7 linked regions of the Homo sapiens genome follow. The protein of the gene in region 2 purifies or fractionates together with the protein of the main gene of each other region. This does not show direct contact. Each region holds a gene or a part of one and is shown on either strand. Other genes may lie near its edges. The genes, in order: HOXD13, F9, HELLS, MCM8, LRP5, SENP1 and POGLUT1.

Evidence for each region.
Region 1: the proteins of F9 (region 2) and HOXD13 purify together in Homo sapiens (affinity purification with mass spectrometry; 2 studies listed by BioGRID and IntAct, with this or other methods). This does not show direct contact.
Region 3: the proteins of F9 (region 2) and HELLS purify together in Homo sapiens (affinity purification with mass spectrometry; 2 studies listed by BioGRID and IntAct, with this or other methods). This does not show direct contact.
Region 4: the proteins of F9 (region 2) and MCM8 purify together in Homo sapiens (affinity purification with mass spectrometry; 2 studies listed by BioGRID and IntAct, with this or other methods). This does not show direct contact.
Region 5: the proteins of F9 (region 2) and LRP5 purify together in Homo sapiens (affinity purification with mass spectrometry; 2 studies listed by BioGRID and IntAct, with this or other methods). This does not show direct contact.
Region 6: the proteins of F9 (region 2) and SENP1 purify together in Homo sapiens (affinity purification with mass spectrometry; 2 studies listed by BioGRID and IntAct, with this or other methods). This does not show direct contact.
Region 7: the proteins of F9 (region 2) and POGLUT1 purify together in Homo sapiens (affinity purification with mass spectrometry; 2 studies listed by BioGRID and IntAct, with this or other methods). This does not show direct contact.

Annotation. Positions count from the first base shown.
Region 1 is NC_000002.12:176,091,102-176,096,199, reverse strand, and holds HOXD13 (homeobox protein Hox-D13), read right to left. Parts: upstream 3,480-5,098; 5' UTR 3,310-3,479; coding exon 2,529-3,309; intron 1,721-2,528; coding exon 1,470-1,720; 3' UTR 256-1,469; downstream 1-255. UniProt on the Homo sapiens protein: Sequence-specific transcription factor that binds gene promoters and activates their transcription. Part of a developmental regulatory system that provides cells with specific positional identities on the anterior-posterior axis.
Region 2 is NC_000023.11:139,528,853-139,534,097, forward strand, and holds the start of F9 (coagulation factor IX isoform 1 preproprotein), read left to right. Parts: upstream 1-1,886; 5' UTR 1,887-1,912; coding exon 1,913-2,000; intron 2,001-5,245. UniProt on the Homo sapiens protein: Factor IX is a vitamin K-dependent plasma protein that participates in the intrinsic pathway of blood coagulation by converting factor X to its active form in the presence of Ca(2+) ions, phospholipids, and factor VIIIa.
Region 3 is NC_000010.11:94,569,163-94,573,690, forward strand, and holds part of HELLS (lymphoid-specific helicase), read left to right. Parts: exon of another isoform or gene 1-2,225; coding exon 2,226-2,267; exon of another isoform or gene 2,268-4,528. UniProt on the Homo sapiens protein: Plays an essential role in normal development and survival. Involved in regulation of the expansion or survival of lymphoid cells. Required for de novo or maintenance DNA methylation. May control silencing of the imprinted CDKN1C gene through DNA methylation.
Region 4 is NC_000020.11:5,956,822-5,961,349, reverse strand, and holds part of MCM8 (DNA helicase MCM8), read right to left. Parts: intron 4,225-4,528; coding exon 4,121-4,224; intron 2,823-4,120; coding exon 2,624-2,822; intron 1-2,623. UniProt on the Homo sapiens protein: Component of the MCM8-MCM9 complex, a complex involved in the repair of double-stranded DNA breaks (DBSs) and DNA interstrand cross-links (ICLs) by homologous recombination (HR).
Region 5 is NC_000011.10:68,410,091-68,413,590, reverse strand, and holds part of LRP5 (low-density lipoprotein receptor-related protein 5 isoform 1 precursor), read right to left. Parts: coding exon 3,451-3,500; intron 2,156-3,450; coding exon 1,971-2,155; intron 512-1,970; exon of another isoform or gene 331-511; coding exon of another isoform or gene 288-330; intron 1-287. UniProt on the Homo sapiens protein: Acts as a coreceptor with members of the frizzled family of seven-transmembrane spanning receptors to transduce signal by Wnt proteins.
Region 6 is NC_000012.12:48,041,747-48,045,116, reverse strand, and holds the end of SENP1 (sentrin-specific protease 1), read left to right. Parts: 3' UTR 1-2,220; downstream 2,221-3,370. UniProt on the Homo sapiens protein: Protease that catalyzes two essential functions in the SUMO pathway.
Region 7 is NC_000003.12:119,481,818-119,486,345, forward strand, and holds part of POGLUT1 (protein O-glucosyltransferase 1 precursor), read left to right. Parts: intron 1-3,510; coding exon 3,511-3,570; intron 3,571-4,528. UniProt on the Homo sapiens protein: Dual specificity glycosyltransferase that catalyzes the transfer of glucose and xylose from UDP-glucose and UDP-xylose, respectively, to a serine residue found in the consensus sequence of C-X-S-X-P-C.

The sequences.
Region 1 (5,098 bases), on a different chromosome or scaffold from region 2:
TATAAAATATCATTTTAAACACTGTAAATGATATCCTCATTTTAAAACATCACTACTTATGTTAAAGTCATGGGCAAAAGGGAGGGAGGGGGGCAAAAGTGGAGAGCATGAAGGTTCCAGAAACCAGAATTAGTGTTGAGTTTCCTTCATCTATAGAGAACATAATTGTGTTCAAGATACCAAGATTTTGTAATAAATAAGAATCGTTTCAAGAAGAAACACAAACTTGAAAAAATAAAACAAATGTATAAGGACTCAGAAGAAACAAAAGAGTTCTGTTTATTGGCATCTCCCTAGGAGTAAAAAGTGATTTTTAAATGTCTGAAGCACTGCCCATGTATCCCAGCTCACAGACATTGCATTTACAAAAATAATCTCTCAATTGTATAAATATGCAGCACTTTAAAAGTAATTATTTATCATCACTTTCAGAAACATCATTATTTTTCTTCTTGGACCTTGGAACTTCACATTTTTCATATTTGTTAGATGCTTTACAGCTCCATGCGAGGCCCCCTTGTTTAGACAGTCAAGTTCTTCATTGGGTTCTGTATGTAAGTTCCCACCCACGGCCACATTGATTCAGCCTCTTTTTGAGGATTGAGGAGATGACCACAATCCCAGACCCATAGATCCAAGGCCAAGAAAAGGAGGTGCATTTATGCCATCCGCGGGTCACTCTACTGATTGCAGCCATTTAAATGTCTGCATTGAGAGCTCAAGAAATGAAGGCATCCACGATCCATGAGGACACATGAGTTTCAAATTAAAGATTATGAAAACACAAACCTACAAAGTGTTAAAAACAAACAATTAAAACAGCAAGTGAAACACCCAAAGTTGGAAAGATTGTCTTCATTTCAATATTGATACAATCCCTATTTAATAAGGTGGCCATTTTTAAAGCCATCACAGTACCTTCAGCCTCCTGTTTTTAGACTTTCTCGGTGACCCCAGAGCACTGCCTGCCTTTCCACTTGCCTCAGGGCAACTGCTGAGAGCTAATGATTCAATTACCTAATTACAGGATATGAACGACTGAAAACCATTCTGTCCTAATGGATTATGAAGATAATCAGTGCTGGGAATGAACAAATAAAGTAATTTTTTAAAAAAACCCTTAAATCAGAATGGCACTTCTGAAGTTCATTGGGGGGCGGATTATTAAAAAATACTTCAAGTCCCTTTATACTGGCCTGGAGGGAGAAACAAAACATTAAAAACAGATATTTTAAAAACCCTAGGCAAGAACAAAACCAATAATAAACAAGTAAAAATCAGAACTACAAAGTCAGGTTGGGCAGCAGAAGGTTTTAGAGCCAGATAAGGGGAAGAGAGAAAAACAATTCACAAAATTTGCCACCATTGGCAGGGGGTGGGGGGAATTAAATACATATTCAAGTCTTTCCAAAGGCCTTTTGGAGACAACCGAATGGCTTCTAAGCTGTCTGTGGCCAACCTGGACCACATCAGGAGACAGTATCTTTGAGCTTGGAGACAATTTTCTTGTCCTTCACTCTTCGGTTCTGAAACCAAATGGTCACTTGTCTCTCAGATAGGTTCGTAGCAGCCGAGATACGCCGCCGCTTGTCCTTGTTAATGAATTTGTTAATGGCATACTCGTTCTCCAGTTCTTTAAGCTGCAGTTTGGTGTAAGGCACTCTCTTCTTCCTCCCTCTTCGGTAGACGCACATGTCCGGCTGATTTAGAGCCACATCCCCTGATACAAACAAAAGCACAAGAAAAATTAGGCTGGGATATTCGGAGCACCTAGCTGAGGATTGTGTGTGTGTGTGTGTGTGTGTGTGTGTGTGCGTTTGCAGGGGTGCAGGAAATTTTTAAAAAATGCCATGCTGTTTGGTCTTTATTATGTACATAGACATAACACTTACCTGTTATTAAAGAAGGATTATTTGCACTTAACAACAATGGTTAATTTGATTGATTATCATAGTTTCTCAAACCGGCATCTTAACAAGCTTGCAATTTTATGGTGTGGTTATTGGGCACGTTCATGAGGACAGTTTCTGCAAATGTCGGTTGTATAAAAACAAACTTACATACATAGACACATACCAACTCAGGTCTTTTGCTCAAATTTTGATTTCCCGCGTTCCTATGTTAGGAGTTCGTGAGCTTGATCTAACAAGCTTTAGTAGTCATCTTGGGGCAGTGATGTCTTTGAAAATGGGGGGACCCAACTCTGTCAGGTTTCTTAGGAAAAAGTTCTCTTTAGGAGAAAAGGGAGAGGCCCAAGGAAAGGGCACGCAGAGACTCTCAACTTTAGGAGAAAAACGTGTCTGCGCTGCACACAGGAAAGAAAGGGCAGTGACGGAGGCAGTTGAAATCAGAGGAGGAATTTACAGATTTCACACGAACTGGACAAATTTCCACTGGGTTAACCCTGGTCACGTGTGGAGCACAGGCACAACTCCCACTCCCAAGTAGGGGCGCATACTCTTAGTCCTTTCTTTTCTCCTTCTCTCTCCCCCTCCCTCGTGTCGGTCCCTTTTCTCCATCGCCCCTACCTGGAAAGGAAGATTTCCAAAAGTGGGACCCCTGTGGCTGGTCCTTGGTGCAGTACACCTGGCTGTTCCACCCGTTAGCCAGCGTCCAGGACTGGTACCCCTCCATGGAGATGTAGGCCTCGTGCCGAGGCTCCCCGGAGCCGAAAGTGGACACCATGTCGATATAGCCGGGCACGTGCTGGTAAGGGCTCGTATAGCCCTGGTAGAAGGATACCTCCTTGGCTCGCGCTGGCACCTCGTTGGCCGGTACGCTGCTGCTCGCCAGGCCTGACACGTCCATGTACTTCTCCACGGGAAAGCCTCCCAGCGAGGCGTGCGGCGATGACTTGAGCGCATTCTGCTGTAAGCCCACGCCGTGCGACATACGGCAGCTGTAGTAGCCGTTGCCGAAGTGGTAGCCGTAGCCCAGCGCTGGAGCGCTCGGGGGCGCTGCAGCGGCCGCTGCAGGCGTGGGTGCTGGGCACTCTTTGGCTGGGGGAGCCTCCGGGCGCGCCGCTACAACGGCAGAAGAGGACGACGACGAGGAAGAGCCCGTGCGCTCAGAGGTCCCGGGGTACGCAAAGCCGGAGGCTGCCGCCGCCGCCGCCGCAGCCGCCGCTGCCGCCGCCGCCGCCCGCCCCGAATGCGTCCCGGCGAACACAGGCGCGGAGAGAAAGCCGCGGCACTGGCCTGACGCCGCCGCCGCCGCCACCGATGAGGAGGAGGAAGAGGCCGGGGCGCCACCGGCGCCCCCGCCGTCTGCCCGCAGCCCGTCCATGTCCCAGCTCCCGGCGCGGCTCATGGCCCGGCCTGGCCCGGCCCCGGCCCTGGCCCTGGCCCCGCGCAGGACACCATGGCGCGGCGCGCCTCCTCCCTCCTCTCCTTTCTCTCTGGTTCGCTCGCTCCCGCCCTCTTCCTCTAGCCCTCTCTCCCTCTGTGAGCCTCCCGCCTCCGGCCCGCCTGCCCTCCAACAGGTTAGCTCATCGCGGGACGTTTATAAAAACGAAGTTCAGGTTGGGAGGGGGCCTGGGCCGGTCGGGGGGCCGCCTCCCGCCCCGAGGGCCCCCGCCGGGGGCGTGCCATTGGCTGCGCGCGGCCACGTGGGGGTAGGAACGCGGGGGAGCCTGGCTCCCGGCCCAGGCCTGGCTGGACCCACCCACTCCGGCCCCCACCCCTCTCCTGCCCCTTGCAGGGTCCACCTCCCATTCCCGCCCTCCCCCCCGACCCAGGCGTACGCGCTGCAGCCACCCCCACGAGTTGATTGCGCGACGGCCCATCCCAGGCCCTGTCTGCGACTGAGGCGGGCGCCAAGGCCTGCGCCTTGTCTCGGCAACCGCTGTTTTTGCCACCTCTCCTCGGCTCCCCGAGTTGCACAGCAAAATGAAGACGAAGGACAGAGATGATCAGAATGATGTGAAAACAGGCCCATTTTTTTATCCTGTTGCTGAATCCCTCAGTTAGTCGACTTCTAGACCCCAAATCCGAGTGAGCTAATTTGCCCTACCTTGTGCACTGGTACCCGGCAAAGGCATTTCACACAGGTAAGAGGCATTGGAGCAGACCCTTCCTATACACACACGCTGTCCGTTCGGAAAATGCCCATGAAGCGCCCTTGGGGCTGGCGGCAGAGACTTAAACAGATGAAAGACAGGCATCGGCGCAGTGAGCCTGACAATCTGTCCCAGAAAGAAAAGTCCATGGATGCCTACTCAACGCTCTTCGCCTCTACTCTTGGGCCAGCCGGGAGTGCTTCCGACCTGGGCCTCTCAGCTCCCGCGGGTCCTTCTTCGACCCGCAGAAAGACCCTGAGAACGGCGCCGGGGGAGAAAGCCACTCAGCCTCCCACCGTGAAACTTCTGTGTCTCTCCAGCAGCCGACCGGCCTCGCATTTTGCAGTCACCACCCACTCCCGCCCGTTTCTCACACCAAATTAATTGAAAACTTCACTTTCCCAGGGACCTTTGTTTCGCTTCCTTTTCCAAGCTGTCAACTGCAGAGAACTGAGAGGGGCAAATTAAGAGGGCGCTTGTTCCAAGCAAATTCGGATTTTGTGATAGGAGCAGCCCAGAGAAACGGTCTGACTTCAAGGGGTTAGGTGGGCTCAGGGCAGTGCTGGTGGGGCTAGGTCCAGCTCTGGAACCAAGCTGCCAGGGTGTTAGGGATTACAGCCCTGTCCCTCATCATCCCTTTCTGTTGCTCCTCAGCCTCAGAGCTCCAGCCCACCATCCCTCAATCTCAGCAACTAATGGGGCACCAATGAGAGTCCTGCTGTGACTTTGGGGCTCTGCCTTAGGAACAATATTAGATCCAATGAGCCCAGGGTTCTGGGGGTGGATATGGGATCCTTCAGAGCCCATTTGGTTCTGTGGCATGCACTCCCCAAGCCAGCCCATCTCCAAGAAAATCACTCCCCTAAGCCTGTGATTGGTGAAAGCTTGTCACCCAGCACCACTGTTCCCCGACCAAAGATGCCCTGAGTAAGATGAGGAAGAGAGCCAGGAAGGCCCTCCTTGGCCTGGCCTGGCATTTCAGGGTAGGCTGCTGGTGTTAGGAGTGTTGACATGCAAAACGCAGTAACCATAAAAGGCTCA
Region 2 (5,245 bases):
AACCCCATCAACAAGTGGGTGAAGGATATGAACAGACACTTCTCAAAAGAAGACATTTATGCAGCCAACAGACACATGAAAAAATGCTCAGCATCACCGGCCATCAGAGAAATGCAAATCAAAACCACAATGAGATACCATCTCACACAAGTTAGAATGGCGATCATCAAAAACTCAGGAAGCAACAGGTGCTGGAGAGGATGTGGAGAAATAGGAACACTTTGACACTGTTGGTGGGACTGTAAACTAGTTCAACCATTGTGGAAGTCAGTGTGGCGATTCCTCAGGGATCTAGACCTAGAAATACCATCTGACCCAGCCATCCCATTATTGGGTATATACCCAAAGTATTATAAATCATGCTGCTATAAAGACACATGCACACGTATGTTTATTGCGGCACTTTTCACAATAGCAATGACTTGGAACCAACCCAAATGTCCAACAATGATAGACTGGATTAAGAAAATGTGGCACATATACACCATGGAATACTAGGCAGCCATAAAAAGAAAATGAGTTCATGTCCTTTGTAGGGACATGGATGAAGCTAGAAACCATCATTCTCAGCAAACTATCGCAAGGACAAAAAACCAAACACCGCATGTTCTCACTCATAGGTGGGAACTGAACAATGAGAACACTTGGACACAGGAAGGGGAACATCACACACCGGGGCCTGTTGTGGGGTGGGGGGTGAGGGGAGGGATAGCATTAGGGGATATACCTAATGCTAAATGACGAGTTAATGGGTACAGCACACCAACATGGCACATGTATACATATGTAACAAACCTGCTCGTTGTGCACATGTACCCTAAAACTTAAAGTATAATAATAAAAAAAAGATCATTCTAAAATTTATACAAGCCCTTAGAACAGTTAAAAATATCTTACCAAAAGAAGAATAAAGTTGGAGGAATCACTCTACCTAATATAAAGTCTTACTACATAGCTACAGTAATTATGACAGTGTTATATTGGCAGAGGGATAAATACATCAATGGCACAAAGAATAGATAGAGAAACTGGAAGTAGACCCAAAACAATATGGTTAACTGACTTACGAAAAAATTTCAGAAGCCATTCAATCGAGGAAGGATAGGGTGGTATTGTTGTTTTTTGTTTTAACAAATTGTGCTGGATAAATTGGACATACCTATGGAAAAAAAAATGAAGTTTGACTTAAACATCATACTTTACACAAATATTAACTCAAAATGGAGCATGGGCATAAATCTAAAACTTCAAACTGTAAAACATTTAGAAAAAAATAGGAAAAAAATCATCAGGATCTAGTGTTAGTGGAAGAGTTCTAAATGTGATCCATAAAACAAAAACAAATAAACTGGACTACATCAAAACTAAAAAATTCTACTCTGTGAAAGACCTAATTAAGAGGACAAAAGACAAGCTACAGGCTGGAGACAATATATTTAATCCACGTATCTATGAAAGGACTCATATCTAGAATATATAAACAACCTTAAGAATCTGACAGTAAAAAAAAAAAATCAGACTAACTGGACCACTCATACATTGCTGATGGAAATGTAAAGTGGTACAGCCATTTTGGTAAACATCATTGCTCTCTGACAAAGATACGGTGGGTCCCACTGATGAACTGTGCTGCCACAGTAAATGTAGCCACTATGCCTATCTCCATTCTGAAGATGTGTCACTTCCTGTTTCAGACTCAAATCAGCCACAGTGGCAGAAGCCCACGAAATCAGAGGTGAAATTTAATAATGACCACTGCCCATTCTCTTCACTTGTCCCAAGAGGCCATTGGAAATAGTCCAAAGACCCATTGAGGGAGATGGACATTATTTCCCAGAAGTAAATACAGCTCAGCTTGTACTTTGGTACAACTAATCGACCTTACCACTTTCACAATCTGCTAGCAAAGGTTATGCAGCGCGTGAACATGATCATGGCAGAATCACCAGGCCTCATCACCATCTGCCTTTTAGGATATCTACTCAGTGCTGAATGTACAGGTTTGTTTCCTTTTTTAAAATACATTGAGTATGCTTGCCTTTTAGATATAGAAATATCTGATGCTGTCTTCTTCACTAAATTTTGATTACATGATTTGACAGCAATATTGAAGAGTCTAACAGCCAGCACGCAGGTTGGTAAGTACTGGTTCTTTGTTAGCTAGGTTTTCTTCTTCTTCATTTTTAAAACTAAATAGATCGACAATGCTTATGATGCATTTATGTTTAATAAACACTGTTCAGTTCATGATTTGGTCATGTAATTCCTGTTAGAAAACATTCATCTCCTTGGTTTAAAAAAATTAAAAGTGGGAAAACAAAGAAATAGCAGAATATAGTGAAAAAAAATAACCACATTATTTTTGTTTGGACTTACCACTTTGAAATCAAAATGGGAAACAAAAGCACAAACAATGGCCTTATTTACACAAAAAGTCTGATTTTAAGATATATGACATTTCAAGGTTTCAGAAGTATGTAATGAGGTGTGTCTCTAATTTTTTAAATTATATATCTTCAATTTAAAGTTTTAGTTAAAACATAAAGATTAACCTTTCATTAGCAAGCTGTTAGTTATCACCAAAGCTTTTCATGGATTAGGAAAAAATCATTTTGTCTCTATGTCAAACATCTTGGAGTTGATATTTGGGGAAACACAATACTCAGTTGAGTTCCCTAGGGGAGAAAAGCAAGCTTAAGAATTGACATAAAGAGTAGGAAGTTAGCTAATGCAACATATATCACTTTGTTTTTTCACAACTACAGTGACTTTATGTATTTCCCAGAGGAAGGCATACAGGGAAGAAATTATCCCATTTGGACAAACAGCATGTTCTCACAGGAAGCATTTATCACACTTACTTGTCAACTTTCTAGAATCAAATCTAGTAGCTGACAGTACCAGGATCAGGGGTGCCAACCCTAAGCACCCCCAGAAAGCTGACTGGCCCTGTGGTTCCCACTCCAGACATGATGTCAGCTGTGAAATCAGACTGAAATGCTGAAATAACGATAAAAAAAAATACAGAGGTTAAACTAGCAAAGTGAGTAAAGTCAAGGGATAAAGAAAATTTGTTGGAAAACTCACAAAGCAGGACATAAAGCAAGGCCATTAGATATATCTCATTAGTGTGACATCTGGGAGGACAAAGCATCCAAACCCTTTCTTCTATATAAGTGGTGAGATGATGAAGGTTGTAAGAGGGCTTCTGCCCCCTTGAAGACTTCAGATGCTGGGGAAAGGATAGATAAGAATAAGGATGAACCAGGCTTTTGGAGCCTGGGAAATAATGACTAGCGATAAACCTGAAGGGAAGTTAAGTATACGATCCCCAGATAATACTAAGGAGAAAGGCAATGTGATTCTGCAGCCATTGTAGCCAGAGATAATAAGCCCTTGAGGAAGGGGCCAGGGGAATTTTTCTAAGGATAGACAGTATTAATGCAGCACTCTCTTCTGCTATTAAACTCTCATTGGCTTCTAAAAGGAGTTTCGGTGAGTGATTTGCTGAGATGTTGCATTTTCATGGCTGCTGCCTTTAGGTATTATTGCAACAGTTTGGAATTTTGAAATTAAAACAGTTCTGTAAAACCAGTTTAGTTTTGTAAAGTGTATGCATCAAAGATGTCCTTCATTCAGACATTACTGAGTTACAACTATGGTGCCAGGTACTGTGTCAGGGTACTAGGGGTATGGGGATAAACCAGACTCCCTCTTTGATCTAAAGCAGCATGAGGCCAGGTGAGAGGTTTCAATATAATGTGATAAAATGTGCACTAGGTACTAAGGGATCATAGAGAAAGGAACACATTAAATGGGGAAACAATTGATAGAGAGAGAATATTTTCATCTGGGTCTTAAAAGATGAGTAGGCGTTCTCTCTCTTTAAATGTCTGATATAAGGGCATTTTATGCAAAGAGGATCACTCGTGCAAAGACTCAGATTTGCAAGAACGTGAGGTATTTCAGGAGTTTTGTATGGTTCCATATGGACTATGACAAGTGAGACAGGTAAACTAGGCAGAGCTGGTCATCAGATAATGAAGTCATTAACCTAAGGAGATTGGACAATAAAATGCAATATGGAGGTATCGAAGTATAAACATAAGGAGTACCACTGATGGCTGATTTAGGATGCCCAGTCTGGCAACACGCTAATGAAATGATAGTGGGGGAGGGGGCCGTACCAAGACTAGGAGAGAGCAGTCCTGAGACTATTGCAATTATCTGCGGGAGACATAAAGGCTAGAACCTGAACAGTAGCAGTACAAAAAAAGAGGGGAGTTCAAATGATATTAAGGAAGTAGAAGTGGTATGACTTAACCATCTGGGTATGGAAGGGGAAATGGCTAGAGTCTTGGGGACTTTGTGTTTGATGTGATTATGGACCACAGAATAATGTCTAAGAGAACTGGCTCTTTAGTCTGACTGCCAGAGTCTGAATCCTGAATGTTTTAGTATGTTACCTTGGGCAAAGCCCTTAGCCTCTATGAATCTATCTTCCTCATTCATAAAAATAAGATGACAGTGCCTATCTCGTGGGACTTTTGTGAGGATGAAGTGAGATAATGGATGCAAAGTTACTGAGCACAGTGTCCAACACAGCAGAAGCATTACATATACATTAGCTATTACTGGCTACATTATGATATACAGTTAGGGAGTTGGAAAGATAATCTGAAATTCAGGAGACGTATCTGACTATAGGTGAGTATTTGGAACTCATTGTTCTGTAAACAGTAGTTACAGCCACGTGTGTGGGCATCTGGAGAGTGAGCATGGATATTGTGATACCTAGTACAGTGCCTGGCAGTAGTGGTTGTATGCTCAGTAAATTTTGTTGACAGGGTCAGGGCCGGACTAGACTGTGGTAAGCAAGGCCTGTAGGGCATAAATATACTTGTATGCCCCGAGAAGTGAGGACCTCTTAAATATTGTGCCCTACATGCCTTGTTTGGTTCACTCTTGTCCCAGCCCTAGCAAGTATATATAAGGTGAAAAAGGAAAAAGCTGAGGCTGGAGCCTGGGAGAACCCTGGACATTTAAGGGCCATGGAGAGGAACAGGAGTTAATCAATTCAAGTGCTGGATGGATAACAGGAGTTAGAGCAAAGCGGGGAACCAGAATAGAGTGATTATTATAAAAAGAGTTTCCTAAAAAGGGAGAGATCAACAATTAGAAATTATTTAGAGCAGCCAGTAAATACATAAACTCAAAATTATTCTTTAGGTCATTCCTGATTGTG
Region 3 (4,528 bases), on a different chromosome or scaffold from region 2:
TTTTAACAAAAAGCTCAGCAAGACTTTTTTTTTTTCTTAAGGTGGAGTCTCGCACTGTCACCTGGGCTGGAGTGCAGTGGCATGATCTCGGCTCACTACAACCTTTGCCTCTTGGGTTCAAGTGAGTCTCCTGTCTCAGCCTCCCAAGTAGCTGGGATTACAAGTGCCCACCACCACGCCCAGCTAATTTTTTGTATTTTTAGTAGAGACAGGGTTTCACCATGTTGGCCAGGCTGGTCTCAAACTCCTGACCTTGTGATTTGCCTGACTTGGCCTCCCAAAGTGCTGGGATTACAGGCTTGAGCCACCATGCCCGGCCAAGACTATTTTTTAGAACCATAACCACAATACAGTTACCACACTTTTGAAAGTCGATGGGAATTCCTTAATATTTAAATTTCTCAATAGGCTAATTTTTATTTTTAGGGATGGGGGCTTGCTGTATTGACGAGACTGGAGTGCAGTGGCTATTCCTGAGTATTGTCATAGTGACTACACCTCAAACACCTGGGCTCACATGATCCTCCTGCCTCAGTGTCCCGAGTAGTAGTGCAGGGACTATAGGCACTTACCGCTGTGATCTGCTTAGCTCATACATTTTAAAAAAATAGTTGGTTCAAATCAGGATCCGAAAAAGTTACATAAATTGTGTTTGATTAATGCGTATCTTGGGTCTCTTTTAGATCTAGAGTGTCTCTCATCTTTTTTAAGAAACATTATTTGTTGAAGAAAATGAGTAATTCTGTATAATTCCCCACATTCTAGACTTTACTGATTGTATCCCCATGATTTCTCTGCCTCTTGTGTTTCCTGTTAACTATAGTAACTATAAGTTAAATACGGAAGTTTGTGATTAAGGTGTTTTTTTATTTTTTTTTTTATTTTTATTTTTTTTTGGGAGACAAGATCTTTCTCTGTTGCCCAGGGTGGAGTGCAGTGGTGCCATCTCGGCTCATTGAACCTCTGATTGCTGGGCTCAAGCAATCCTCCCACCTCATCCTCCTGAGTAGCTGGGACTACAGGCGTGTACCACCAAGCCCAGCCAACATTTATATTTTTTGTAGAGATGGGATCTCACCATGTTGCCCATGCTTGATTTTTAATAAGAATACTTCATTGGTGGTATTTATAGATTTTGATTTATTTCCAAATTGTTCTTTCAAAAGTTTCATTTTATCTAGTCATTTTACAGGACAGCTTTTATCAGTTCCTGGTATAAAATCCTTTTAGCCTCAGCCTTATAATATGAATATCTATACATACATAATACTTCATACACACACGATATACATATATTCCCATGTATATATATGTGTGTGTGTCAGCCACTTACATGTCCTGTTACTCTTCTATGAATCTTAAATTTGATATTGCTGTTTTGAATCTACTTCATCCCCTATGCCTTCTATATTCTCTCTGCTTGAAATCTACCCTCACTATCTTGAATGATGAAGCCTGGTGACAACTTTTTAGATAATTTTATGTAAGATAATTATTTGCTAAGTCATCCAGTGACATACTCGGGTATTGTTTGTCTCCCTACCAGCAGCATCTAGTAGGTACTTCAAAATCAGAGCACTTTATTCTGTATTTTTAATTTTTTCTGTCTTTGCCTCTTACCCAGGAATGCAAACTCAGATGTCTATCCACAGAGGCCTAAAGTGGGCTGTAACATGGTTTGGCAAACTTTTTCTGTAAATAGCCAGATAGTAAATATTTTTAGCTTTTGAGTAGTTTTGTGGGCAACTACTCAACCCTGTACTCTGCTGTTGTTGCTTGAAAGCAGCCATAGACAAACCGTAAACAAGTGAGGCTGACTTTGTTCCAATTTATCCCATTTCTTTGCTTTTAAAAAAATACCTGTGTATTCGCTTAGCTGGAGTTGGTCTACAGGCTGTAGTTTGCTGACCCCAGGACTAGAGGTTTGTTGCCATGTGTGAATTTGTACTTAATCTACTCAGATTAAAAGAAAGAAAAGCTGGAAAATCACTGTATTTGATGAAATATCCCATTGTATAAGTGTTCCCAAATTAGCCTAGAATGTTATGAAATATTATGAGCCAGTAATGTCTATAGGCTTATTTCTGCCTGAAGGCTACTAGTTTTATCTTGAGAATCTCATCCTCATTTCCTGGCAAAATGAGCACAGAATAAATGCTTGTTGAATAAATAAATAAATGAACTTCATACATTATTAATTTGTTTTTGTTTTCTCAAACTACTAGGAAATTTTGTCTGTGGCTAAAAAAAATAAAAAGGAGAATGAGGTAAGAAATTTATAATGTAAGATTAAGTTTAGAAGTCATATTTACTCCTCAGTTACTAGTCCTTTTTCTTTAATCAGCAGTATACGTTCTTCTCACTATTATCCTGTTTCTTTGCTTTAAAAAAAAATACCTATGTATTCACTTCTTCCATATCCAACATTCTTCTTTTTTATGTATCAACTTTAGTTAGTTGTTTTATTGCATGATTCTTGATGTATAAATGTTAATTTATGGGTCTAGCAATGTTGCTTTTAACTTGTGAATCTGGCAGTGATACAAGTGCTCGTAACCATGTGGATATAAACCGTGAATCATCTTATGGAAGCTGTGAGGGATGCCTTAATCTTGCTTCAGACCTTAAAGATTTTTTAAGTTTCTTAAAAGTTCTGTTTGAGAAGGCTTGATTTCCGAGCCACCTCTTCACTTAGCCCATTTCATGTAGAGAGGTTCCTTGTTATCTGACTTTTTATTGTTCAAGTACTTAAAATTACAAGGTTGCCTAGGGAAGCAAAATAATCATGACATGAAAATATTCATGAATGGATATGAACTTCAGGTAGTTAATTTACATATTAAAGATTTTTAGGCCTTTGGGAAATTAATGTTATGTTTATAAAATGAGAGATAATCTATTTGGTCATATAATTTTGTCCAAAATTTATATTGTAAAAGTGTCTTGGTTTTTATTCTTTGTTAAGTTATTAAGGACTGGTTTATGGGTGCAGTTTAGTTGGATTTTTAAAGATTTAGTTAGATAAACATTTAGTTGGATTTTTAAGATAAAGTCTAGATGTAATCTTCTGTAATTTACTATGGGATTTTGGCTTCATTTTATAACTTACAGTCAGTAAGAAATAGTTGTTAAGTATGGTATTTTAATGAATTTCGACACTTGCATACACTTGTGTAACCACCATCCAAATCAAGGTATAGAACATTTCCATTGTAAAGGGATCTCTTCTATGTCTTTCCACCCCCAAACCCAGAGGAGGCCACTTTTTACACCTTTTATAGGATGGCTTATTATTTCCTTTCCACTCAACATGTCTGTGATACTCATTTATGTTGTTGAGCATATTAGTAACCGGTTTCTTCTTATTGACTAGTATTCTGTTGAATGAATGTTACAATTTTCTCATCCATCCCCTTATTGATGGGCATTTGGGTTGTTTGCAGTTTGTGACTTTTATGAGTAAGGTTGCTATGATAATTTGCACACAAGTCCATGTGTAGACATGTTTTCATACTTTCTGCCTGTGTACCTGGGAATGGTATTGTTGTGTTACGTGGCAAATGTGTGTTCATAAGAAAGTACAGATTTTCCCCCCCAAAGTAAACACATCATTTTATTCTCTCGCCAGCAATGTTTGAAAACTCCAGCTTACATTATTGTCAGCATTTGATAGTCTTTTTAATTTCAGCCATTTTATTAGATGAGAAATGGTAACTTGTGTGGTTTTTAACTTGCATTTTCCTAATTACTACTGAAGTAGAGTATATTTTTATGTTCTTTGATAACTATGTTTTCTTTCTTTTTTTTTCTTTTTTGAGATGGAGTGTCACTCTGTCGCCCAGGCTGGAGTGCAATGGCACGATCTCGGCTCACTGTAAACTCTGCCTCCCAGGTTCAAGCGATTCTCCTGCCTCAGCCTCCCAAGTAGCTGGGACAACAGGCTCATGCCACCATGTTCAGCTAATTTTTGTATTTTTAGTAGAGACAGTGTGTCACCATTTTGGCCAGGATGGTTTTGATCACTTGACCTCATGATCTGCCTGCCTTGGCCTCCCAAAATGCTGGGATTACAGGCGTGAGCCACCATGCCCGGCCTGTATGTTTTCTTTTGTAAAGTATCTGTTAATATCTTTTGCCCGTCTTATTTATGCGTACTGTATTTTCTGTGTAACAGTTTAATAAATTATTGAGTATCACAATATTAGAAGTTTGGAAGAGAGATACAATTCTAATGATCTTTTCAAAAGTATGTGCCTGATTTTAATTTGTAAGGGTTATTCTCAGATTTTTATATTTTATTTTATTTTATTTTATTTTATTTTTTGAGATGGAGTCTTCTGTCACCCAGGCTGGAGTGCAGTGGCTGTGTTCATGGCTCACTGCAGCCTTGACTTCCTGGGTTTAAGTGATCCTCAGCCTCCCGAGTAGCTGGGATACAGGCAGTTGCGTGCAACCACACCCAGCTAATTTTTTGTATTTTTAGTAGACACAGGGTTTCGCCATGTTGTCCAGGGTTGTCTTGGATACC
Region 4 (4,528 bases), on a different chromosome or scaffold from region 2:
AGCCCAATGGTGATAACGATGACTCTGGGTACCACCGAGGAAACATTATACATCCATGGTAACAAGGGCTTAATTAATAAATGGTGTCAGGATAAATAGCTTTTCACCTAAAAATTAGATCACTAGTTTGTTTTTTTAAGAGATGGGGGTCTCACTATGCTGCCCAGGCTAGTCTCAAACTCCAGGGCTCAAGCGATCCTCCTGCCTCAGACTACTGAGTAGTTGGGACTACAGGCATATGCCACCATGCCCAGCTTAAATCCCTAGTTTTATGCCCTTCACCAATGGCTTAAATTCCAGATGGACAAAAGATCTAAAGATAAAAAACAAAACTTAGGATTCTTAGAAGCAATGTAGGAAATATGTTTATAATGCTTGAGTGAAAAGGGCTTCTTATTTATTTATGTATTTTTTGAGGCGGAGTTTCGCTCTTACTGCCCAAGCTGGAGTGCAATGGCGTGATCTCGGCTCACTGCAACCTCTGCCTCTTGGGTTCAAGCGATTCTCCGGCCTCAGCCTCCCGAGTAGCTTGGATTACAGGCATGTGCCACCACGTCTGGCTAATTTAGAATTTTTAGTAGAGATGGGGTCTCTCCCTGTTGGTCAGGCTGGTCTTCAACTCCTGACCTCAGGTGATCTGCCCGCCTCGGCCTCCCAAAGTGCTGAGATTACAGGCATGAGCCACCAAGCCCAGCCGAAGAACGGCTTCTTAAGCAGGGCATAAAATATACAAATTAGGGAGGAAAAGACAACAATTTGATCATGTCAAAATGTAAAACTGTACAACAAAAAAACCCACAAAGTTAAAAGACAAACCAAAGACTGGGAGAAAATATCTAATGTATATAATCAACAATAATTAGTATCTAGAATGTATAAAGAACTCCTATCAATAAACTAATAGAACCAGGCACAGTGGCTGGCACCTGTAGTCCCAACTACGTGGGAAGCTGAGATGGGAAGATCACCTGAGCCCAGGAGTTCAAGGTTGTAATGAGCTATGATCATGTCACTACACTCCAGCCTGGGCAACAGAATGAGACCCCATCTCTAAAAAACAAAATTAAAGAATAAACCAATAAACAGGAAAATGAACATTAGATATAAATAGAAAATTCGATAAAGAAACTGAATGGCCAGTAAAGATATGAAAAGATGCTCAACCACAACAGAAATCAGAAAAATTCACATTATAAATGCAGTATTATTTATACCTAACAAACTGTCAAAAATGTACAAGTCTAACAATACCAAGTGTTAATGAAAAGACAGAGAAATGGTAACTACTTAACACTACCAGCAAAGATTTAAGTTGGGAACAATACTCTGGAAAGTAATTTGGTAACATCTAATACAGTTAAAAATAAGTACAGCCGGCCAATCCCAGCACTCTGGGAGGCTGAGGCAGGCGGATCACCAGGTCAGGAGTTTGAGAACAGCCTGGCCAACATAGTGAAACCTTGTCTCTACCAAAAATACAAAAATTAGCCAGGCATGGTGGCGCGTGCCTGTAGTCCCAGCTACTCGAGAGGCTGAGGCAGGAGAACTGCTTGAACCCAGGAGGCGGAGGTTGCGGTGAGCCAAGATCGCGCCACTGCACTCCAGCCCGGGCAACAGAGCGAGACTCCGTCTCAAAAAAAAAAAAAAAAAAAAAAAAAAGTACAGCCTACAACTTAGTATTCCTCTGCTAAGGAGACATGTACAAGAATGTTCTCTGCAGTATCATTTGTTCTTATAAAAAACTGGAAAGAGCACAATTGTCTACCTCCAGGAAAATGGATAAATTGTGGCTATTTATTTAAAGCAACACTCCACAATAGTAAAAATGAAAGAATTTGATATGTATTAAAATAGGTAGAACTACAAAATAACCAAATAAAAAAACAGCTGCGTGTTACATTCAGGATACCATTTACGTAAACACAATACAAAAAACTAACTCTACACATGTAGTCAAGAATAAAAATGTAAACTTGAAGAATACATGCCAATTTCAGCATAGTGGTTGCATCTAGGGAGCAAATAAAGGGAATAAAACTGAGAACAGAAAGACTTCAACTTTATATAACCATATTTTTGTTACAAATTAAGCTAAAATAATATTAATATTTGCCAAATCATAGAGTAGATAAATGTTAATTACATTATTCTCTGCACTTTTCTATAGTTTTAAAATCCAGTTTAATAAAGGCTAATAAAGATTTAAAAAACCCATCACTTCTAAATAGTAGAAGAAATAAAGGGGAAAAAAAACTTGGTGTGTATACCTAGAAGTCAACAGAAATATGAATGGAAGGGATGCATATTATAATAACTTCAGGATAATGATCATCCCTGGGAATGGTATAGGTAAAAAACAGACACTAATTGTGCCAGTAATGCTTTATATCATTAAAAAATGTGTCCGGAGCTGAAAAATGTAAATTCGGGGTGATGAGTAGTGGAATGTTTTATTTATTTCTGTATTTTTCTTACCCTGAAGTATTTCATAATATAAAAGCAGAAAATTGAAAATAAAAAATAAAAATAAGCTCTGTGTTCAGAAACACTGGGAAATGTTTTCTGTATTCTGATTTGCCTTCTTTACCAAGATAAATAAAGAAGCAGTTAAAGAACGTATTACCTTTGTGGGAAGACTGTATTTTCCATCTGGAAGAGGAAAGCTCTGAATTTCTCCACATGCAGCACAAAGAAAAGCCATCTTGGTGCAAAGAGGCTTTATATTACTGACACGAACCACTGTCCCTCTTAGAGCAATGTATTTTCCATAGTAATTTGCTCTGACATTCTTGAGCTGTGTCAAAGGCTCATAGTTGTACACCCTAAAGACAAAACAGGAAGTAATGAACAGAAAATTGATGTTTTTTATATTTTCACAAGTTCCTTTTAGGAGCAACTATGGAATTCTCAAATCAAATCATCCCTTCGATATATCAGAAATATCACAAGAATTAAACCATTCTTGTTGTGTTTTGTTTTCTTGAGATGGAGTCTCGCTCTGTTGCCAGGCTGGAGTGCAGGGGTGCCATCTTGGCTCACTGCAACCACTGCCTCCCGGGTTCAAGTGATTCTCCTGCCTCAGTCTCCCGAGTAGCTGGGACTACAGGTGTGTGCCACCACACCCAGCTAATTTTTGTATTTTTAGTAGAGACAGGGTTTCACCATGTTGGCCAGGATGGTCTCGATCGCTTGACCTCGTGATCCGCCTGCCTCGGACTCCCAGTGCTGGGATTACAGGCATGAGCCACCGTGCCCAGCCAAACCATTCTTAACAAGAAACAACACTAAATCTTCCTTTTTCTTCTTGTCTCACAGGCTGTTCTCAAGGAAAAAAGAAAAAAGAAATTTAAGGAAAAAAATAATGCCAAAAGGAAAATCTACAGATTCAAAAACCTTTGGGTTTCTAAGTTCTTTTTAAAGAACTGCTAGGAAATTTTCTTCTATAAATTCTGGAAAAGAAAAACAAAATGCTGATGATTACCTTATAATGAATTCTTCTAATGAATTTAAAATCTTAAAGATGAATTCAAGAAAAACAAAATAATTTCATTATTCCCTTGTATCTAACAAAAACCTAATAATTTAACAAAGAACACTTAGTGTATTACAGACTGAGTATATCCCTTATCCAAAATGCCTGGGACCAGAAGTATTTTGGAATTTTTGGACTTCCAAATATTTGCAATATTACTAGTTGAGTATCTCTAATTCAAAAATCTGAAGTGCTCCAATGAACATTTCCTTTCAGTGTCGTGTCAGGGCTCAAAGTTTTGAATTTTGGAGCATTTCAGATTTCAGATTTTCAGATTAGGGATACTCAACCCATACATGGATTATTAAACTTACACAGCAGGGTCTTGATAAGTTCACATCCAAAACCAATGTTTACAAAAATCTGCAGGTTAGGAAATCAACATTTTCTTCCTTATTTAGGAAGTATCTGTCATGATGTCTTTGAATAATTTTCAATGAGTTTATTTCAGTGTGATGATCAATGAGATGGCAAGGAACTCATGTCCTTTTTACTGATTTCCTCATTTTTATAAAATGAGCGTTTTCATTCTTAAATGGCCTTCAATGTCCCATTCTAAGTAATACTTTAATACATCAAATTCCTCACCTTGCATGAATATGTGGCACATTTACCATTGTTTCTCCATCATTAGACAATCCTTCCTGGGCTTGTAACTCAGCTGCATGCCTTTCAAGGTCCTTAGTTAACACCTAAACAGGACAGACATTTACTCTGAAGTTGGAAAACAAAACATCCTCTTTATACAGAACTCTATTTTTATAGAGAATATAAAGTTTATGGACAGAAACAGAATAAAAACAGAAAACTTTAACAGCCCTTTAAATATCTAATATTTAATTATGACTACTTACTTTATAGTGGATGTTTTACATTGGATTTTGCTGTCCCTGTGCTGAAAAACTCCAGCATCCCAGTCTGCTACTTTCTGTCCCAACTAAACCTAACATTAAAAGCCCTTACATTAGTCCCCAAAACCATCACCTCTTGATACTA
Region 5 (3,500 bases), on a different chromosome or scaffold from region 2:
TAGCGACCACATGAATGCCTTAAAGTGTTTGGCCACCTTGGAAAACCAGCAAGATCCACTGAAGCGCAGGCAGGATCTAGCAAAATTAAGTGACCTGGCTACAGTCACACAGTTGCTAAGTGGCAGGGCCAGGATTACCACCCAGGCAGCGAGACTCCAGGTTCTTGTTCTCATCATGTCAGGCCTGGCTGTGCATCCTTCACTCCCACAGCAATGAGACCAGGCCTTCCATGTTATTAATCAAGCACTCAGTAAACATCCGGAGCGTTTAAGTCCAAAACACGTACCGAGGAGTGACGGCCAGGCTGCAATGCACATGGCCGCCCTCATTGGCAGGGTCACATGAGTTTCCAGGGCTTTTGCTGGTTTTCATCTGAGTCTGTCCTCACTCCGGGGTGATTAATGAGCTTAATCATTTCAGGCAACCACAGCTGTGCGGTGACTGGTTTCTCGCCTGGCAACAGGTTTGCATGCGGCCTGGATGAGCTGGGTCACGGGATGTGCTGCAGAGCTGGGTGACGGTCACGAAGTCACGTGCAAACCTTGCTACTGGCCTCACAAGTCAGGGTGCAGCCCACCCCCAGCGACAACCAGGACACGGGGTTCAACTGCCAGCTCTGCCTACGCAGTACCTGGGACAAGGCATTCAGCTGGTCGATGCCCCAGCCTCCTCATCTGTAAAATGGGCACAACCACACCCAGTGCAGATGGCGAGTAGGAGAGGCAGAGGTCAGAAGCCAAATTCTTGCTGCCCTTCCTGAGCGGTTCGACATGGCTGACGTGCTCAGAGGCTCTCCTAGGGCCAAGGTCACTGAAGGTCCCTTTGCCAGGGGACAAAAGTCAGGGCTGCCCAGGTGACCCTCTCCTCCCTTGTCTGCCCTCAAGCCAAGGGGTGCCTGGGGACTTGGAGCCTCAGAGCTTCTTTTTCTTCTTCTTTTTTTTTTTTTGGAGACGGTCTCACTCTATTGCCCAGGCTGGAGTGCAGTGGCATGATCACAGCTCACCACAACCTCAACCTCCTGGGCTCAAGCAATCCTCCCACCTGAGCCTCCCAAGTAGCTTGGACTACAGGCATGAACCACCATGCCCAGCTAATTTTTAAAAAATTTTTTTGTAGAGATGGCGTCTCACTACATTACCCAGGCTGATCTTGAACTCCTGGGCTCAAATCATCTGCCCGCCTTGGCCTCACAAAGTGCTGGGATTAGAGGTGTCAGCCACTGCACCTGGCCCTTCAGAGCTTCTGCCCCTGACCTTCTAGTCTCCCAACTTGGCAGGGGGGATGGGGGTTCCTTTGTTAAGCACAGTTGCCCCTGTCACCTGCCATATCACCCAGGACAGCTAACTACTCTAGCAGAACAGAGTGTGCGGTCCCCTTTTCTGGGTTCAAATCCTGCTCCTGTTGCTGTGTGACTTGGGATAGGTTTTTTTCAAACTTCCCTGAGCCTCATTCTCATGATCTGGAAAAAGGAGATGAGAGCACCAGCCCTGGGGTCCCGGGCGTGTGGACACTCCCAGCACAATCCCAGCACATGGTGGGGTTCAGGGCTGGGTGGGGATCGAGTGCTGGCCCTGGTATCTCTGGGGGATCCTGAACTCACCAGCTATGTGACCTAAGGCAAGTCATGTGCTCAGGCCTCAGCTTCCCCAGCAATGAAAACCACCATGTGTGTTAGGGTGAAATTAGAGTCCTGGCACAGGGATTAGCTGGGACCTAGTGCCCAGCAGGTGCACAGGAAACAGCTGTCACCAGAGCCTCTCCCGACATAACTGCAGCAAAGGCACCCAGGGGTGGACGGGGACAACTCCCACAGCAGAGGGTGAGGCTGCTGGGCAGTCGTGGGTGTGGCCACAGCTCCTGCCAGGTTGGGGAACTTGCAGGCCACAGGGTATGTGCGGCGAGGCTGGGAGGTGGCCAACGCCCGGCTGCCCCGCCCTCCATGACCAGAAGGCCCCAGCCCGGCCCTCACCCAGCATGTTGGACGACTCGATCATGTTGGTGTCCAGGTCGGTCCAGTAGAGGCGCTGGTCAGCGTAGTCAATGGTGAGGTCGTTGGCCCGGCCCACCTTGTCCACCAGCGTCATGCAGTTGGTCCCGTCCATGAAGGCCCGCACGATCCTCGGCTTGCCGCCCCACTCGGTCCAGTAGATGTAGCTGGAAGGCACAAGGGAGAAGGGCAGGCTCAGTGAGTCTGCTCTCACCGCAGGACAGTGGGTGGCGGGGGGACGCAACTGTCCCCACCTCTTCAGCTCAGCCCTCCCCGTCCTGGAGAAAGCCACGCGCAGGAAGCAGGGAAGGGCGAGACCCTCGACCCCTGCCACACACATATCCCTCCAGGGGTGGTCACTGCGCCACCTCCCTGAATTCCCACAGTGGCTCACTCGTAAGGCGAGTAAATACCCACTTACGGACACAAAAACAGATGCACAGACAGGGTGAGTGTGTGCTGGAACATCCACCTAAGCTTGGCCGGATGTTGGGGACACGGCAGAAACCAGGATGGACACAAGCACATCACAAAACAAGACCTCAGGGCAGGGGAGGCCTTGCGGGATCCGGATGTAAACTCGGCTCTGGGCTCCTCCCCCAGCAGCCCCTCCTTCCCTCTTCTTTTAGCAGATCCAGAAGAGGAAATGCACATCCTCATTCCAGAATTTTCTAAGTTTGACCTGCCCTTGCTCTAAAACCTGGACCTCTTTCTGTTGTCCTGCCATCCTGAAGTCTTCCTTCCTTCCCTAGCAGAACAGGCGACAGGCAGGGATTGGGCTGCTGCACACATCACAGGTGCTTTAAGGGGTGAGCACTGTGTCCACCACACAGAAAAGAAAACTCAAGTCCAGAAAGACGCCCCACACATCTGGGGCCTGTCTGAACCCCGTGCCCAAGGCAGGGCCCCCAGGACGCCTGGCAGCTCAAAGCACATTTGCCTCTCGAGGTGGGTCCTAAGCTGTGGCTCAGCAGCCTCCAAGAGGCCATTTCGGAGGAGCCTGAGGTCCGGGGACCTCAAAGTCAGTTCTGGATCATGGTTTTGGCAAGAGTGCAAAGCAAGGAGACCTGGTCAGGAGCCTGAGACAGCACTTCCTGGCCCAGCTCTGCTCTAACTGGGTATGTGACCTTAGGGAAGTCACTCGGTTTCTCTGAGCCTGTTTCTGCATCTGTAAAATCGACACAGATACCCACCCTACGCAGGCTCCATGGACACTTCGGTGAGACGGCCCAGGTGAAAGCAGCCAGCACTGTGCCTGATACAGCCTCAGCACCCGCTCCACGAAGGAACTCCATGACCTCTGAGGGCCCTACCAGTCCTGGCCACCATCAAGGCTAATGACGTCAGTACAGCTCTAATCACCGAGGGCCACACGGACAGCCTGCCACCTTGCCCAGTTGGCACCCCCGCACTGTCTCATACGAGGTGAACACAAGGACGCACGGGACAGGCAAACACTTACCCCTTGGTGGGATCCAGGGCCAGCGACCTCGGGTTGTCCAAGTCCCTCCA
Region 6 (3,370 bases), on a different chromosome or scaffold from region 2:
TGTGAAAGGGGTGAGGGACATCCCTAAGCTGAAGAGAGAGACTGCTTTTCACTTCTTCAGTTCTGCCATCTTGTTTTCAAAGGGCTCCAGCCTCACTCAGTCCCTAATTATGGGACTGAGAAAAGCTTGGAAAGAATCTTGGTTTCATATAAATTCTTGTTGTTAGGCCTTACTAAGAAGTAGGAAAGGGCATGGGCAAAAGGTAGGGATAAAAACCACCAGCATATACATGGACATACACACACACCCACACACACAAACACACACACACACACAATTTTCACGATGTATGGTCAGGAATGTGACTGTAAACTGGACTTTGGGGCCCAGGCATAAGTCCCTTCCTCCAGGACCTTTCCTATTTATATGTCCCTATACAAAATCCATCTGCTTTTATACGTAGCTGTTTTATCATCTGTAGCTTCATCCTATCCGGAGGCACAGCACATGAGCCCTGGACAGGTCCCAAAGTTCCAAGCAGTCCTTTCCGTGAAAGCAGGGGTTTGCATGTGCTACCAACACATGATACGGGGAAGACCCACCCAGGGAGCGGTTTCAGTGGCGCAACAAAGCACCACTTTTACTGTTGCCTACTTCTGACCAAGAAGAAAAAGGACCTTAGTATTTAGCATAAAATTCCAGCGCTGGATGAATGCAGATCTAGTTTGGTCTGTGGCTAGTTTAAATATGTTTCTAACCACAGAGAATTTCATATATATATACATATATATATACACATACATATATATATATATATATGTATGTATAAAATTTCACAGGGATATGCTTTTTTTTTTAAAGACTGAATGTGTTCACCATTTAGCCTGTAGATTTATTTCCATTTTCCAAATTCCAGCACACAGAGATCCCAGCCCCTATGAGTAGGGTGTTTGTGGACTACCTAATGGAATATTTTTGAGGCCTGGATGAACTTTGCCATATGGGTAGAGGTTACAGAGGGAGGTGATATTTTCAGCTAAAAAAAAAAACGGGTGGAGTTTGGACTGATCAACTTGAGATTTAAAAACTGCTATTCCTTTTGTTCTTTCTAGCATCTCTCCCCACCCTCTGAGAGCTCCTCAGGCTTAGATAGTGAAGTGATCAAATGCCAGTGTCATTTTGTACTTAAGTTCCAAAGTAGGAACATTTTATACTTTTTTCTGTATTGTAATAGGTAGTTTTGTATGAAATCTTTTCTCCTCTCCCGTTGTACCGCATTCTTTCCAGCATTGTGCTTTTTCCCTGGGCTTATTTGAAAATTTTACTGTTTTATACAAGCTCGTTTAGTACATTTTTCTATGTTTTACCACAAGTTACAATTTGAAAAGAAAACTATTTTTTTTAAATATTCCATTGTTAACTGAATGTTACTGTTTCCACTCCAGCAACTACATGTCCTCCCTTCAACTGCCTGCCTTTTGGGGAAAGACCACCTTTTGTGTGTTTGTTTTTTCTCTCTCTTTCTTTCCCTTTCTCTTTCTATCTCTCTTTATTTTTCTTTCTTTTTCTTTGTTTTTGAGTTTTCTATAGGAAATAAATAGCTTTCTATATATGAGTTGCTGGGGACCTTCACATTCTCTTTTAGAAAGCTGTGGCATGCAGTCTCATTGCAGGACTCCTGGAATATTGTCTGGTTCTTGGTATTTACTGTATGTAAGCAACAACTTGAAAGGTGGCAATATGGTGTCGATTTGGACTATGAATCAAAAGACCTTTTTCAGGTTCTTTCACTATTGTCTGGGGGACTCAGAACAAGATTGTTCTCTGTATTTATTGTTTGTCCATTTAGGTAACATCTGTCTTACCTTCCTCACAGACTTTGTACAGACCAAAGCAACAAATATTTATTGCCATGTATAGCAGAAAATGAAACATGCAACAAAAGCACTTTGAAAAATATATAAGGAATTGTTGAGCCTGTCTGAATTTGGGCCCCCTTTCTGACTAATGCAGTTTTGCACAAGGTAGAAGTTAGTGACCCTGAGACCATCTTACCACCCTGGACCTGGTCCAAATACAGACTTACACAGTGGACCATTCTTTCCTGAGCTAGCCAACAAGAGCAGGAGTAGTATCTGGAAACTTTCCCCTTTGTTTAGGGGTAGGCTTTGATGACCAGGAAAAAAAAAAAGGTATTTCTGCATTTTATGGCCCAAAGGCATGTTATTAATATCTTATGTAATTTACTTTAAACTAAATAAGACTTTTTTCTCCTGTGTTCCCCTTTCTCCTGTGTCCACTGCTCATATTCACCTGCCTTCCCTAAAAAAGGAATATTTGAGGGATGATAAGCACTAGATGCCAGCTATAGAGACCTCAACAGAAACCATAATCCCAAGAATCACTCCGAGACCCTGAACAGAGAATATCAGACAGACCTTTCTTACCCATTTGAGAAACACATGGTCTGAGGCACAGAGGCTAGTTACATCCCATTTGTCACCTGGGACCCACCATTGCTCCCAGGAGTCCTATTTAGGGTTGAATATAAGAGTACTTTTCCCTCATCCAGTCTGGGGAATTTGTGTCAATTGACTCCTCTGTATGAGATGCTTCATACTTCTATGTGGAATTAATTTCTGTATTCTTTAGCCACTGTAATCATGCTAGCATCTTCTATCCACTGCCCCCAGCAATGTTAGCACCAAGATCCTGAGGTAGAAACAGAGATAACCTGGAAAAGCACTTCCACCAACCCCATCTCATAGCCTGTCCATTACTGCCTGGTTTTACATGGCCCTTAAGTGGCTCTAGTGGGTAAAGGGGGAAGAGTTCACTTGAGAGCCCCAATGTTTTTAATGTTTCAGTTTCTGGTCCTGTGCCATCCCTCCAGCTTTTAAATATGTCTTGCTGGAGTAAGAGAGAGGACTGACACCTGGGGTTTCTTTTTGTTTGGTCCACCTGGATGGACTAGCATGAGGTGGAATATGATGCTTTCACCCTGGGAGTTCACATACCCAAGAGAGTCAGAAAAAGAGGTGTTAGGCTATTAGGCCCTATTGTTAAACAGGCCACGTGCTGAACTACTGGGAAGGGTACCTTATTTTCCCGCCCAGGAGCAATGCATCTACAGCTTGGAATTCCATGGGAAGGGACAAGGCTCATCCCAGCATCCTTTATTATAAGTCTAGGGCCTTGTTTTACCTGTACTGACTCCTAACATCTGTCTACTAAGAACACACACTACCATTCCCAGCTTTGAAGGTGGAAAAGGAAACGTGGGACAGAGGGTTATGCTGGTCACCTGTTAAAATAAAGGATACCTTACACATACTTCCTTTGTGGGAGAGAAAAGAGTGGCTAGGAGGCTTTGAGCTGGGACCTCGAGGAAATGTTATTGTGAGCTGTCTCTTTGGCCTGTCAGGGAGAT
Region 7 (4,528 bases), on a different chromosome or scaffold from region 2:
TTAATATTCCTTGTGTTTTCCTGACATTGAGACTGTCATTTCTTGTTTATTTTTGGGTTTTGAACATAATTTTGAGAGGGGGGGAAAAAGGTGTGGTTTTTTTGTTTCTTGGTTGTTTTTTAAAATTTTTTGTAGAGACAGGTCTTGCTATGTTTCCCAGCCTGATCTCAAACTCCTGGGCTCAAGTGATCCTCCCACCTTGGCCTCCAAAGTGCTGGGATTACAGGCATGAGCCACCACACTAAGCTGGAAAAAAGGTTTTAAACTTTTTTTTCCCTAAGTTATTCTTGGCCTTGGCCTTAATTTTCTAATCCTTTCCCCCCCTCCTCAGGTACTTGCAAATACCCTTTTCACATTCTTCTTTTTGTAGCTCTTTTCCCACCTGCCATGCAGCTGCTTTGTTTTCAAAATCTTTAAAAACATTTTTACTGATTATGAAACCTATATATGCTCATAAAATTTTACAAATATGTATAACTCAGGCAACTTTCCCCCTAACTTATTGGTGTATCTAAGTAATCTTTCCATGTCTTTGTTTCATGTCAGTACATATGAAAGAGTCACTTTATTTATTTGTTTGTTTGTTTATTTTTAAAAGGCAGGATCTCACTATGTTGCCCAGGCTGGACTCAAACTCCTGGGGTCAAGGTGTTATCCAGTTACTCCACCGTGTAGTTATTAATACCATTTTCCCCCAGGTAAACTAGTAAGCAATTTTTAGGCAGATAGAATGTTTTAAAGTCTAATCTTATATGAATACTTTTTTCTTTTGATACCTTCCCATTTTATTCAATTGAATTTATTCATGGTTATAGAAATACAATTTTGTTTTTTAGAACCCTCTGTTTAGAATCTCTAATGATGTTCATTTGTTACCTTGAAAATTTAATAATCTGCTTGTTTATCCATCTGCACTGATGTCTGCCTGCCACTGTTCATTCTATTTTTCTGATATTTTGGGAGTTTGTGCCCACTGATTTATATTTCACTCTGTAGAAGAATTCATTGTTCTTTACAGATCGAAGATTTCATTTGTTACTGTCAGAGAGGGTTTAAAAAAGAGGGCTGGGGTAGCACCAGGCTGTGGTGGCCACCGTTAGCACTTGCCTGGAGAAACAAGTCCTAACCTAGGTCTTTTGAGGGAGGATGGGTAGGTTAGGAGAATGAAAGAGAGAGAACAGTGATACACAGTTTGGGTTTGTGTATATGAAACACAGCTTCCCCAGGAGCCAAGGAAATAAAGAGAAGTAACTTTGAGTATAAATTGATACATGTTTTGTTAGATAGTTTGACAATATGTATCAAAATTGGAAATGTATACTGTGTATCCTTTGACCTAGCTGTTTCATGTCTAGAATGTATCCTAAGGAATTAATCAGATGAATGTGCAAAGATTTGTGTACAAGGATGTTTACTACCATGTTGTTTCTTAGAGCAGAAAGTTGGAAACTACCTAAAAGTCCATCAATAAAGGATGAAGTGAATCATAACATGACTATAAAATGGAATTTTTGCAGTGAGTCTTTGCCAGAGATTATAAAATGGAATATCGTGCATGAATGGAAAGGCAGTGTAGGTTTTAAAAACTCTGGGTTCAAATCCTGGCTCTTATTAGCTGCATGACTCTGTGCAAGTTGCTTAACCTCTAAAGGACCTCATTTGTAAAATAGGGGTGATAAAACCTACCTCTTAAGATTGTGAGAATGATTTTTTATTTACAAAGCACTTAAAACAATGTCTGTAACATAGTGAAGTGCTATATAGATGTTGGCTGTTATTATTATTTATATTTCCTATTAAGATTGTTACCTAACAGTATGTATGGTGTGACCTCTGTTACATAGAGCAAAGTTTCTCAGTACTAGTGTTGCTGACATTTGGGGCTGGATAATTCTTTGTCCTGGGAGCTGTCCTAACCACTGTAGGATTGTTCAGCAGCATTTCTGATCTTTACCCACTAAATGCCAGTAGCAGTCCCCTAGTAGTAACAATCAAAAATGTCTACAGACATGGCCAAATGTCCCCTGGGTGGGAGGGACGGGCAAAATTACCCCCAGTTGAAAGCTACTAATATGAATAAATGATTGCAAGGAAATTCTCGGCTAAAATGTTACATTGTTACCTCTGGACAGGGAGATTCCAGACGACTTCTTACTTTTATCTTTATGCTTTTTCATGAGAACTTTGCATGAGGAGCATGAAACATTTTCCACTAAAAACAAAACAACAAAAATCCAGTGCTATAGTGTCTCTGCTTGGGCAGGAAGAAGTATGGGGAAAACAAGATAGTTCTGGCCTTAGACTGGAGAATCAGGTAAAGGTGATCCATCCAGAAAAGGCCAGAGGATGAGCCACGTTGGCTGAGGGTGGAGGTCTGAGGGCCTGGAAAATACTGAGCAGCGTTCTCAGCTGAGTGAAAATGAGCAGCATGACATTATATGTATCTGAAAAGGACCTGTGCCTAGAAAGTTTATATCCTAAGTTTCTCCGTTACTGTAATCCAGCCCATCAATCCCTCATTAACTTCAGTTCAGCCTTCCCTTCCTTTTTCAGAGAAGATGCTGTGCAGACTTCTGTGCAGGGAGGGTTCCTACGAAGCAAGTTAAGAATGATGCATCTGTGAGCTAGCAGTTTCAGTAAGGAAGGCTGGTCATGGTAATGTGTACTGAGATCTGACTTTCAAGGACTTCATCTTTATAGAGCACTTAGTCTGGCTTTAAGAATACAAAGGTGCTTTTCAAATATCAAACTAAATCTGATGACACTTCCCACCTATGGAAAACATAAAATCAGAGAGTGATTTCCCTTTCATTCCATTTCTGATGCTTTTTTATTTTTTTGCAGTTCTGTACACATAATTAATTTCATCAGTAGCACCCTACTTAAAGTACAGAGGAAATCCACATTTGCCAAATTATAAACAGACCTAATCATGACCTTCAGGGTTTGGGGGCTTTTCTTTCAATGTTGTTAACTTGTTAATGGGGAGTAGATTTGTAGATACAACTGGGTAGCACCTCCAGAGCAATGAAATGGTAGCAAAAGGAAACAAAGTGTCCTTTAGGGCTTTTTCTTTTGAGTGACTTTGATTAGACTTACTTAGAAATATGAAGCTCTGGCCAGGCACAGTGGCTCACGCCTGTAATCCCAGCACTTTGGGAGGCCGAGGCAGGCGGATCACGAAGTCAGGAGATAGAGACCATCCTGGCTAACACGGTGAAACCCTGTCTCTACTAAAAAATACACAAAATTAGCCGGGCGTGGTGGCGGGCGCCTGTGGTCCCAGCTACTCAGGAGGCTGAGGCAGGAGAATGGCATGAACCCAGGAAGGGGAGCTTGCAGTCAGCCAAGATCGCGCCACTGCACTCCAGCCTGGACGACAGTGCGAGACTCCGTCTCAAAAAAAAAAAAGAAATATGAAGCTCTGAACTAATCTTCAGAAATGGTTAAAGCACATTCTTATATAGTTGAAAAAGATATATTGAAACTAATTAAATTCTATATTCTTAGGTCAGCAGCACAGTGGCCATGGAAAAAGAAAAACTCTACAGCATATTTCCGAGGATCAAGGTGAGTTATTTTCTGACATTTTACAAAGATATTCTTCCAAGTAATGTAAAATGTAAGTAACTTTGAGGGTATGACAAGCTCTGTAGTTCAAAGGGAAAGCTAAGATAACAAAGAAAGAAATGTGGAATCACAATTTTAGATTCGAGAATAATTCACATTATTTGCCGAAATCGCCATTGATTGAGTTGATATTCAAAGAAGTAAAGTTCATCCATTTCAGTCATTTAACAGATATTTTACATAGTGTCACAAATGTGTCGGTCATTGATTATGTGATGCCAAACACAACAGATGGGTGTCTTCTTACAGTCCCTAGGAGTAGCTTATGATCATGCCACGGTACTCTGCTGGTTAATGCAGAGCAGGACTCATCACCATATCTCTTGACTGCCTTTTTTATCACACCCTGTGGCTGCCAAATAGTGGTTAAGAGCACAGACTGAGACTGCTGAAAATGAAGAAGGGAGCAGGGAGGAAAGAGAAGAGAAAAATGGCAAAGGTAGTAGGAGGACCCTGTGTTGTTCAGCTCCATAGTCCCAAGGCCAAGAACAGTTCCTAGCATGTCAATATATGATAAATATCTGTGGAGCAGATGAATAGAAAAGACCATGAAGGGAGCAGGGTTTTGTAGTTTTAGCAAGTGAGTCCTTGCCAGAGATTATACTCCCTCTTCACCCTCCTCTTCACTTCGGAGCTAGACTTTAGGAGGTAAATGGATTATCCAGCTACTATGTCCTGTTTCTTACCAACTTCTCTGATTCTTAAATCTTGAAGTCACAAATTAACTTGGGGACCATGTCTGGACTTCAAGAGTTTTAGGACTCCCTTGAAATTATGTGAGGATATGTGCATTTTTCTGGGAAGGAGAGAGGGTTGGTTCATAGTTCTTAACAGATTATCAAGGAATCCATGATGCCTCACATGTCAAGACCCTCTGCTACTTGGAACATCACTAGAA